Homo sapiens: one gene and its partners. The protein of the gene in region 3 purifies or fractionates together with the protein of the main gene of each other region. This does not show direct contact. Each region holds a gene or a part of one and is shown on either strand. Other genes may lie near its edges.

The links.
Region 1: the proteins of SFT2D1 (region 3) and TSPAN3 purify together in Homo sapiens (affinity purification with mass spectrometry; one large-scale study listed by BioGRID and IntAct). This does not show direct contact.
Region 2: the proteins of SFT2D1 (region 3) and HERPUD1 purify together in Homo sapiens (affinity purification with mass spectrometry; one large-scale study listed by BioGRID and IntAct). This does not show direct contact.

The regions. Positions count from the first base shown.
Region 1 is NC_000015.10:77,064,511-77,068,237, reverse strand, and holds part of TSPAN3 (tetraspanin-3), read left to right. Parts: intron 1-3,727. UniProt on the Homo sapiens protein: Regulates the proliferation and migration of oligodendrocytes, a process essential for normal myelination and repair.
Region 2 is NC_000016.10:56,930,642-56,934,241, forward strand, and holds the start of HERPUD1 (homocysteine-responsive endoplasmic reticulum-resident ubiquitin-like domain member 1 protein), read left to right. Parts: upstream 1-1,500; 5' UTR 1,501-1,603; coding exon 1,604-1,750; exon of another isoform or gene 1,751-2,653; coding exon of another isoform or gene 2,654-2,674; intron 2,675-3,600. UniProt on the Homo sapiens protein: Component of the endoplasmic reticulum quality control (ERQC) system also called ER-associated degradation (ERAD) involved in ubiquitin-dependent degradation of misfolded endoplasmic reticulum proteins.
Region 3 is NC_000006.12:166,336,004-166,339,730, reverse strand, and holds part of SFT2D1 (vesicle transport protein SFT2A), read left to right. Parts: intron 1-3,727. UniProt on the Homo sapiens protein: May be involved in fusion of retrograde transport vesicles derived from an endocytic compartment with the Golgi complex.

The DNA of each region.
Region 1 (3,727 bases), on a different chromosome or scaffold from region 3:
GTGATAAGGAAGTTAAGCAGATACGCTGGGGGCAAATGTGTCACAGTGCAATGTAGCTAATGAGGAAACAGCATTAGGTATGTCTCCCAAGAAAGTATTAGTTTGTGGACTAACTGTGGGAATCTGATGATGATGGGTAATGGCAACTAACATTTGAGTTACTATACCCCAGGCACTGTGCTAAACACTTTACATGGCATATCCTCACAGCTTTCCCATCTAGCAGGGAATATTAGGTACATTTTAGAGGAGAACATTAAGGTTGACTGAGCCAAAGTAGCACACCCAAGGTGTGATACAGCCTGCGTTCAAACCCAGGTTGTCCCATACTCTAGAGACTGTGATGTTAGGACAAAGTGTGATTTCAGAAGATTTGTAAAGAGAAGAAAGTTGTTAGAATCACTTCTCTAAAGCATGCTGATTTTGAGATTGCTAAAATTAGAAACTGTACCAGAATTTACATGACACTTTGTTTGGTTTTGAATTAAGTCATTATGAGGAAGTACATTAAAAAATGTTAAAAGGTTCTTCCTGGGAATTTGTAATGCATTCTTCAGTTCTAATAAATGTATTCTTATATGCTGGCCCCTCCCTCCTTTTAATGCCTTGAGATGATGAATAAGTGGAAGAATAAACATACTCTCCATAGAGCTTATCAAATGTTTACCTAGGTTCCCTTGGGCAACTGTAGGCAATAAAAACTATGTTGCATTGGCTCTTCACTGTCAGATGGTAATGGCTGATTGTTAACAAGGGTCAAAGTTTAATTGCTTTGGCAAGACCTTTAAACTACACTTTCTTATGTCTTGATATCCTGATTCTGCTGGCATTTTGTTCATTGAACTGTGACATGGAGATAGATATATACCTGAAATACTCAGGCTGTAAATTATCTGACAGCTAAAATCGTTACTGTTGATTTGGTGTAGATAGTTTGGAACAATGCTGTAATAATGTTACTGTGGAAAGGCACAAACCAAAAGCAGAAACAATCATTTCTAAAATCCTGAAATTTGTCTTAATGGAAATAGGGAACTCCTGCTATGGTTAGAATGTTTGTCCTTTATAAAACTCATGTTGAAACTGAATCCCCAATGTGGCCGTATTGAGAGATGGGGCCTTTAAGAGGTGATTGGGTCATGAGGGCTCTACCCTCATGAATGGATTAATCCATTCATGGATTAATGGATTAATGGGTTTTCATGGGAATGGGACTGGTGGCTTTATAAGAAGAGGCAGAGAGACGTGAGCCAGCATACTCAGCCCCCTCACCACGTGTGATGTCCTGGGCCACCTCAGGACTTTGCAGAAGGCCCTGACCAGCTACGGCCCCTTGACCTTGAACTTCTCAGCCTCCATGTATGTAAAAAAATTTCTTAAATTACCCAGTTTCAGGTATTCTGTTCTAAGCAACAGAAAACAGACTAAGACAGTTTCTCACCAAATTCTAGAATATTAAGATTTGTAGCTTGAAAGATAATCTTGGACAAGTGAAAGGATGTACAGCTTGGATCATCTTGGATCTCTGTTTTTATGGAATGATGAGGCTTTAAATATAAGTGTATTCATGCTGGACCCATGAGGATTTATTGAAGAAGGTTAGAAGTGTTTTAGGTAAATGACTAAATTTTAAAGGCTTTTTTTTTTTTTTTTTTTTTTTTTTTTTGAGACGAAGTCTTACTCTGTCGCCCAGGCTGGAGTGCAGTGGTGCGATCTTGGCTGACTGCAGCCTCTGTCTCCCGGGTTCAAGCGATCTTCCTGCCTCAGCCTCCCGAGTAGCTGGGACTACAGGCGTGCGCCACCATGCCCAGCTAATTTTCGTATTTTTTTAACAGAGACAGGGTTTCACCATATTGGCCAGGCTGGTCTCGAACTCCTGACCTCTTGATCCATCTGCCTTGGTCTCCCAAAGTGCTAGGATTACAGGCGTGAGCCACCGCGCCCAGCAAAGGCTATTGTATTAAATAGGCATTAGCCTATTCTGTAAACTGCACCTTTGTACCAAGGTCAGACAGGATTTTTAGTTTGGTAAGTCATTTAATCTGACCAAAGAGGGCTCGTCTAAAACAAGTTTAAATCAGTACTTCCTACCATTAAGTTTTTATTCCGGTAAATTAATTGATTATTTAATCAAGTCCTATGTTATACAAATTACCTTTACTTTTTTTTTAAACCCTATTAGAAAAACTAATTGGCTAATACTTATTTTGCTCATATTTATCTTAGGCATTACAGGGACTGGAACAGAAAGCTTTGTCCATGCTTATAGAATTTATAATCTTAAATATCTATTTAGGTTGTTGTTTTTCATCTGAGAGGTGATAGTATAAAACTGAGACACCTGTAGAGTGGGGGAAGTACCGCAAAAAAGTCAAACGCCTTTTAAATAAATGCCTTTAGAAATAGCTTTGGAACGTGGCACCTTCACTAACCATCATTCATTCATATGAAATACTTCACACATATAAATTGTAGTTGAAAGCCATATGTAACCTTTAAAACTTATCCTGCCTTTAAAAATAAAACTTATCAGCCAGGTGCGGTGGCTCATGCCTGTAATCCCAGCACTTTGGGACGCCAAGGGTGGCAGATCACCCTCCTGACTAACACGGTGAAACCCCGTCTCTACTAAAAATACAAAAAATTAGCCAGATGTGGTGGTGGGCACTTGTAGTCCCAGCTACTCGGGAGGCTGAGGCAGGAGCATGGCGTGAACCCGGGAGGCGGAGCTTGTAGTGAGCGGCGATCGAGCCACTGCACTCCAGCCTGGGCGACAGAGCGAGACTCCATCTCAAAATAAATAAATAAATAAAACTTATCACGCTTATGTCTGTGAATGTATATAATTAAGGAAAATTTGCTTTGTTAAATATAACACTACTATTTGAGCACCTACTTTGTGCTTATATTGTTGATAAATGATGAAAAGACAGTGAAAAATCCCTATTCTTACAGAACTTACTTTCCGGTGAAGCAAGACACACAAAAATAAACAAGAAAAATGATCAGAGTGATGTGTTATGCAGAGAATTAAAGGGTGATGTGATAAAGTGATTGGGTCGTGCTTTATGTTGGCAAAAAAAATCTGGAGTATAAGAAGTTGCTGACTTGGGTGATTTGGAAGAGATTGGGAGACTGGGGGGATTCAGAACTGAAGGAACAGGCTGTAGGCTGTAAGGCAAAAATATACTTGCTATGTTCAAATTACTAAGAGGTTTATACCGTCATGCTTTTGTTTAAAAAATAAAACTTTATAATGAGGTATTTCAAGTGTGGTTCTCCCTTGTCACAAATCTTGTACATACTTTGTGTTTTCCAGCACATCCTACACATTCGAGGTGGTAATATGATACTTTTAAACCGGAACCTGCATCTGATATCCTGGAATTTGTTTCTCTACTTCCTGTATTTCTCCTATCATGAATGACTGCTCTGACAAAGAATATGTCATGGGACACACCTTCAGCTAACTTTGCTTTTTCATGCTTGTTTTCAATTCACTAGAAGAAAATCTAACTTGTCAGGAAGCAAGTACATAATAGGAAGTGTCTGTCTTAGTTTGTCTTCAACAGTTAAGAAAATGAATGTTTCCACTCTTACTACATTCTTAGTCACCTGTCCACTGACCAAGAGCCTTGTGGCCCTGAGTAATCATTTAGAACTTGGAATCAGCAGGGGCGCTCTCTCTAGTTGCAGTTTAGGGAATGGGTTATTAGCTTTCTAGGAT
Region 2 (3,600 bases), on a different chromosome or scaffold from region 3:
TTGCCACTCACTGATAGTGTTTTGATATGAGTCTGCAAGCAATTGATTTATGATGGCCTCTGTGCAGTGAAACCTCTCTGCTAATGTTAATCCGTATTTGCAGCCACTCTCAGCACTAGCATCAGCAACTCAGCTCCACCTCCCATCATCAGGCATTCGATTCTCGTAAGGAGCACAGCCTAGTTCCCTTGCGTGCACAGTTCACAATAGGGTTCGGCTCCTGTGAGGATCTAATGCCCCCTGATCTAACAGGAGGCTGAGCTCAGGTGGTAATGCAGCGATAGGGAGCAGCTGTAAATACAGATGAAGCTTCGCTGGTGGCTCACCTCCTGCGGTGCCGCCTGGTTCCTAATAGGCCAGGGACTCATAGTGGTCCGTGGCCCAGGGGGGTTGGGGACCCCGTCTTAAGCCATCCAGTTTGTGGCACTTTGTTATGGCAGCTGCAGCAGATGAATATACCCACCAACCAGACCAGGCTCCTCCTGTTACCTTCCTGACCTTGACAAGCTCCTGACAACACCTGAAAAAACAGATGTCCCAAGGGGGTTGGAACAAGGAGGGAGCCGGGGCAATGTCAGTTTTGTTTTTCAAGCCTTTTTTTTTTTTTTTTTTTTTCCTACAGAGGAGGAGGAGGGAACGCCTACAATAAAGAGGCCTTTATGGTCCCACTTCAGGAATCGGAGAACCCCGCCCTCCTCGTCTCAGCCCCAATTTAACGGGTGCATGTGTGAGTATCTTATAAAGTGACGCGTTTTGAGGGGGACTCCAGTGTGAGCAGGACTGTGGCTGACTTGTCAATCATCATTAGGGTGATGTCCCAAACGTTCAAGTCTGAGGCCCAGGGAAATTGGCAACAGCTGCCTGGATGCCTCCATCCTCCCAGCCCAAGGAAAATCTGGCCTTGCTCCTTCGTTGTCTTTCTTAGGAGCACGTGGAGTTCTCCTAGGTGGGCTTGCACTCGGGGTCGCCCAGCCGTTCTTTGAGGGTTCGAGTGGGTAGGCTTCCCCTGTAGGACGGGCTTCCCCGTAGGTTTCCACGTGGGGCCACAGAGGCAGGAAAAGGGGAAGTGGGCACTGACACCTGGGGTGAAAAAGGGTGGGGGTGCGGCTTTGTGAGGAAAGAATTTGCAGAGACTGCTAAACTGGGGTCTGCTAGGATACCCCACTCCCCACCCCCTGCCTCGGGCGCCCTCAGCCACCCGAGCTGGGGGCCTCGCAGGTCTCAGACCAAGCTCCCCGCGCGGCCTGCAGCGCACCCAAACATGGCCACCGAACCCGGGTTCCCGGGGCACAGCCGCGCCTCTGGGTGACGCAGACGCGGCGGGTTGCATCAGCCCGTGCCCACGTGCTCGGTCCGCCCTCTGCCACCCGGATCCGGACGCCGATTGGGCCACGTTGGGAGAGTGCCTCCGCCTCAGCCAATGGGCGGCAGCCACAGAGCGTTCTGTCCGCAGAGCCGGGCGCGGGGCTTCTATAAAAGGCGCCCGAAGCGGGGGCGCGCGCCCCAGAGACGTGAACTGTCGTTGCAGAGATTGCGGGCGGCTGAGACGCCGCCTGCCTGGCACCTAGGAGCGCAGCGGAGCCCCGACACCGCCGCCGCCGCCATGGAGTCCGAGACCGAACCCGAGCCCGTCACGCTCCTGGTGAAGAGCCCCAACCAGCGCCACCGCGACTTGGAGCTGAGTGGCGACCGCGGCTGGAGTGTGGGCCACCTCAAGGCCCACCTGAGCCGCGTCTACCCCGAGCGTCCGGTGAGAGCGGCCCCGACTTCCCGCCCCTAGGCTGTGGCCCCCCGCCCTCTGCTGGGGATGCCACGTCCGGCTGCCCTGTCCTGTGGCCTCCTCCCGCTGACGGCTGCGATCGCTCGGCCGGTCACCTCCCCCAGGGCTGTGGTCTCCCCTTCCCTGCCCCGCCGACGCGGGCGCCCCTCTGTTGCCCAGTAGCCGTCAGTAATCAGCAGCCTGACCTTGGGCGAGTCATTTCACCCTCCAAGCCTGTTTCTCCCCCAGCGGCCAGGCAACTCGGTGTTCCTAATTGGGCTTGCATCCAATGGCTAGAAGTAAGAAAACATCCGTGCTGCAAAATGAGGTTTCTGAACGCAGCCTCTCTGCAGGGAGAGGAGCGGGCAGGTGCCACCCGGGGCCGTGGCTTGAGAAACCTGGGGACCGCCCAGACACTGTGGACGGAAGGCCCCACACCCAGAAGCAGGACGTGGCTCTTCTCCTCCCTGGCCACCTTCCGCCGTGCCCCTCCCTGTCGCACTGGACCGAGCAGCCATTGCCGAGTCCCGGGGTGGAGCCCCGTGCACTTTCTGACCAAGAGCGACTGAGAAGGGAAGCAGGCAGGAGTCGCCTTCAGTCTGGTTTTAGGACGGCAGCCTCTCCATTATTAGCAAGACTTCCTTGCTTTGTTTTGGTTGACACATCTGTCAACATCACCCTTAGCACCGCCTGCCCTGGCCACCACGTGATGAGGCTGTAAGCTGGCCCTTCCTGTATTTACTTTCTGCTCTGATATTATGTAAGTGTCAGCAGTGTTCTTCACTGCCCACGAGCATAATTCTTCATCACACAGGAGAGGGCATCCGGGCAGGAAAAGATAGTGAAGTCGTGAGTTCCAGCTTGTGGTAGCGCCTGTGTCTGTTTTTGTTTCATATGGTCAAGAATGTTTTAGAAGTGAGTTTTCCTTCTGAGTTGTTATTTTGAAATTTGCATATTTATTTAGTAAGCTTGCATTCCATGTCCTCTAGAATTCACCCTGGCACATTTTTCAGTTTCACCATAGCTGCTTCCAAGAAACTGGGTGGCTGTGTTGCCATGAGAATGACTATTGGGTACACAAATTGGTGAAGCAGGTGTAGCCTATGGTTGCATCATATGGCAAAAGGCAGGATTTTGGCGGAGGATTTTTAAGGTCTTCCTTTGATGAGGAATGCCGCTCCCATCTGTTCAGTCTGAAGACCTAACATTGTAAACAAATACCTCTCAGGTATACAAATTTGTGTCTAAAAATTATTATGGCTGAAACATACTTATCATTTGTTTTCTGTAGTAGAAAATGGCATAATATGAGAAGGCCTACTTTGTAATAGTTGTTTGCTTTACTTAATATTTTTCAAATCAGCCATCTGTGTGAAGACTCAATATCAAGTTAGGCCTTTAAAAGGGGGAAAATAATTCAAAACCACTGGCAGCTGTGGTTTTCCGGCCTTTTCTATTGGTTGAACTCTGTAATAAATGCAGGACCCTACATATACAAAAGGTACTGTTTTCCAAATTCACGTATGTATTAGCATTTACCTTTAAAGTTCTCATCCGTCAGAAAAACGGTGAACACAGCATTCAGTATATTTATTTTGGTTTAGTTACACAGTGTCAAAAAGTTCTGATGTATATGGATAAGTAGATGCACTTTTTGCTGTTTTGTTTGTTTAAACAGCTTGCTTTAATTATCTCAAGCTACTTGGCAGGAACACCTTTATTCCAGGTTTCGCATAATCAGTTATTCTGGCAAGAGTAGATTAACACGTTAGTGATCTCCAATAGACAGATTATATGTTAATATTATTTGAGGCCATTATTTTTAAGTACAATTTAGACGG
Region 3 (3,727 bases):
AGGATGCCCCAGAAAGTGAGGGAAGAGAGTGCTTTAGGAAGGGGATGGGACCCAGTACTGTTGATGGGTCTCAGAAGTTAAGAGCAGATTACCCGTGGAGGTTATCAGTTGTCACTTCCACGAGAGCAGTCTTGGTGGCTGGATGGGGTCAGAGGCCTGATTGAAGTCAGGGGAGAATAGAAAGAAGATGGAGATGGTATGGCCATCTCAGTGATTTTTCCTGTGGAGCAAAGAAGTGGGTGGTAGTTGAAGGATGCAGTGGGGTCGGGGAACATGTCATTTTCCCAAGGAAAATACTGGATGTTTCTGTGCATTGGGAATGGTCCAGGAAAGGGGAAAATTATGGTGCAGGCAAGAGGGAATTGTTGCTAGGGGGCTATTGAGGAGTGACTTGGAAAGCAGGTTTCTCTAGGGAGGAGGAAGGGGCAGGAAGTGGCAGTGAGGAGGGCAGACACCTAGCTCACTGCCTGTCCAAGTGGTACAGGATTCACAGGGGAGAGCCCTGGTCCTGGAGACTAAATTTCAAACCTAGCCGGAAGGTGAGAGGATCATCAGAGAAGAGGGTGAGGACATAGGGAGGTTTGCTGTTGGTTTTTGGAGATGGGTAGGAGATGAGATGGGATTAAAGGCGCACAGACCTGAATGGGGTGAGGGATGACCTGAGAGTGTTGCACGTCTTGTGCAGCAAGACGTAACCAGGATGGCGGGCACATTGGAATTGGGTCTTGACAGGGATGGTTCTAGGCCAGTTGAGGAGTTGGGCGAGGCAGTGAAGGTCATAGGGGAGCATCCTGACATCCAGGCTGCATCATCCTCCTATGCAGGCGCTTTGAGCCCCGGGGAGAGGCACGGTAGCCAGAGTTCTGGGACCTCTCCTTCGAGATGCCTGGGAAGAAGTCAAGGAGGGAGAGATATTGAGCCAGATCTTAAGAGAGTTGATCATATTCCTCCCCTGATCACATCCTTCATTGACTTCCTGCAGCACTTGAGTAAAATCCAGATCCCTCCCTTGGCCTCTCAGCCCTGCACTGCTTGTCGGCCCGCCTCCCCACCCTCTCCCCAGTGCTTGCCTTGCCCTGCCCTCTTTCTCCTCCTCAGTTGGAGCCATTTTCTTCTGCCTGGGAGACCTGGCAGTTGCATTTCTTTTTTCAGGAATGCCCCTTCCTGGCTCTTTTCAGAGTTGGATTGGTCACTTCCTGATGTCTTCACTTGGTCACCTCTTTAGAGAGGCTCTTCCTGACCCAGTTACTCTGCCCCTATTTATGTCCTTAGTAGAACCTGCCTCATTAGTTTATTGCCCATTTTCCCCCATCTGAATGTAAGTACGCTAGGTGCTGTCTTATTCCTTTCTGTGTATGTAGAACCTACCAAGTACCTGGTGTCTAATAGCTGTTCATAACTACTTGTTGAACAAACAGATGAGTGAGTTGTTTGGATTTGGGTAACTACCAAGGAGAGCTGAGGGCATTGGCATAAGGTAATTGTTGGGAGTTAGATGACAAGAACATAATGCCGGAACATTCTACAGAGTTCTCTTGTGGGAGTCCTACTAACCCCTGCTGACAATTTGCGAGATGTCTTAGTCCATTCAGCCTGCTGTAATAAAATACCTTAGACTTTGTGATTTATAAACAACAGAAATTTATTTCTTACGGGTTTTGAGGCCGGAAGTCAGAGATCAAGGTGCACTCATGGGTTCTTGGTGAGGCCTCCCCCTTCCTGGTGTCACACTGTTGCCTCTGGTTATATCTTGACATGGCAGAGAGCAGAGAGCTTTAGTCTCTTTCTCGTCTTATTAGGGCGTGGATCCCATTCATGAGGACTCCATCCCCATGACCTGATCATCTCCTGAAGGGCCATCTTCCAGTACCATCACCATGGGGTCGAGGATTTCAGCAAACACTCAGACCATAGCACACAGGTTGAGACAAGTCATTTGCTTGTTGACTGAGTTATTTCATATTTACAAATGGCATTAATTTATCATGTTTCACTTCAAAGATCACCGCGTGGAAGATGGTAATAAGAGAAAAATGCCTAATAAACAATTTAAGCTCTCTCTGCCTTTCCCACTTAGAAGATTGTAAGTATACCTACCTTATCTATTTCCCTCACTGTTCCCATGGTAGGTGTGGGTGAGGTGGTTAGGGGGAGTGTAGAGAAACACAAGGAGGAAGCTGTCTTTCCAGGTAGAAGGAGCTAAGGCGGCAGAGGAGACCCCAAGCAGGAGCAGCTGGCGAGGCGGGAGGACAGTCAGGAGAGCCGGTGGGACATGGGAGTTGAAGAGAACATTGTAAGCAGGAGGGAGTGCCAAAGTGTCCTGTGCTGTTGAGTTGGAAAGGATACTGATGCTTCAAAAATGTTCCTTGGAATTAAGGACACGGAAGTGACTTGTGTCTGCAGGGTTTCAGCCAGGGGAGGGCTGAAGCTAGAATGGTCAAGGTGAGCTTCCCAACCACTGTGCCAGGCGTGTGCCAGCTGGGGGTCCCGTCTACTCCTACAGCCTCAGATAAGGATTCCTGGGAAATAAGGCACTGGGCTAGGAAGGGAACTACATGAAAAAGTGTGGTGGGCCGAAGGGCCTGGGACCTTGACTGCACCTCCCCAGGGGCTACACTGCCTGGGCTGTGCTCCAAGTCTGGTGTGCAGAGGGAGCTTTCCCCGGGAGGCCTGCCTGCTAGAGCCTGTGTAATTGCCTGTGGCCAGCCCCAAAATCACTCACAGTGCTGTGGTCTGAATGTCTGTGTCCCCCCCAGAATTCCTATGTTGAAACTTAATCCCCAATGTGATGGTATGAGGAGGAGGTGCCTTTGGGATGTGATTAGGAATGGGTTTCATGCCCTATTAAAAAAGAGGCCCCAGGCCACATGCAGTGGCTCATGCCTATAATCCCAGCACTTTGGAAGCCTGAGGCAGGAGGATTGCTTGGGCCCAGGAGTTCAAGACCAGTCTGGGCAACATGGCGAGACCCCGCTTCTACAAAAAATTAAAAAATTAGTTGAGCGTGATGGTGTGTGCCTGTGGTCCCAGCTACATGGGAGGCTGCGGTGGGAGGATTGCTTGAGCCTGGGAAGTTGAGGAAAAGAAGGATCCATTGCCCTTTCCATCGTGTGAGGACTCAGAAGGTGTCATCTGTGAACCAGAGATGCCTCACCAGACGCCGAATCTGCTGGCGCCTTGATCATGGACTTCCAGTCTCTAGAACTGAGAGAAATAAGTGTCTGTTGTTTATAAGCTACCCAGTCTACAGTGTTTTTTTAAGAGAATTAAATAGTTTATTAGCTACATACAATTATGGATGATACACAAGCTTCATTCCCATCTATAATGTTATCTGGTACCATTATTCAGTTTAGATATATTGCATGGGATGTGCCAACAATCATTTTTATAACTAATAATTCTGTGACTTTGCTTGGGTGATCCCCTTTGGTGGTGAACTTCAGGTCACAACAGTAACTGTCAGTTCAGCTACACCGAGCTCACTGAAGACAGTGGCTTCTCCACCCGAGCAGAGTGTAAATAAGTTCCAAGTAGAACCTGGCATCACCCTGAAGGAATTCTGACTTCACACTCTTGGGGGAGTTTACCAAGATGGCTTCCGAGGAGACTAACTTTACACAGCACGTTTTTTAAAAGGACACATTTATTCAGTCTCATGATCAGACTATTACATTTAGCAATCAACAGCATGAGTGCAAAAGAAAAAAATTACATTAAAACCCTT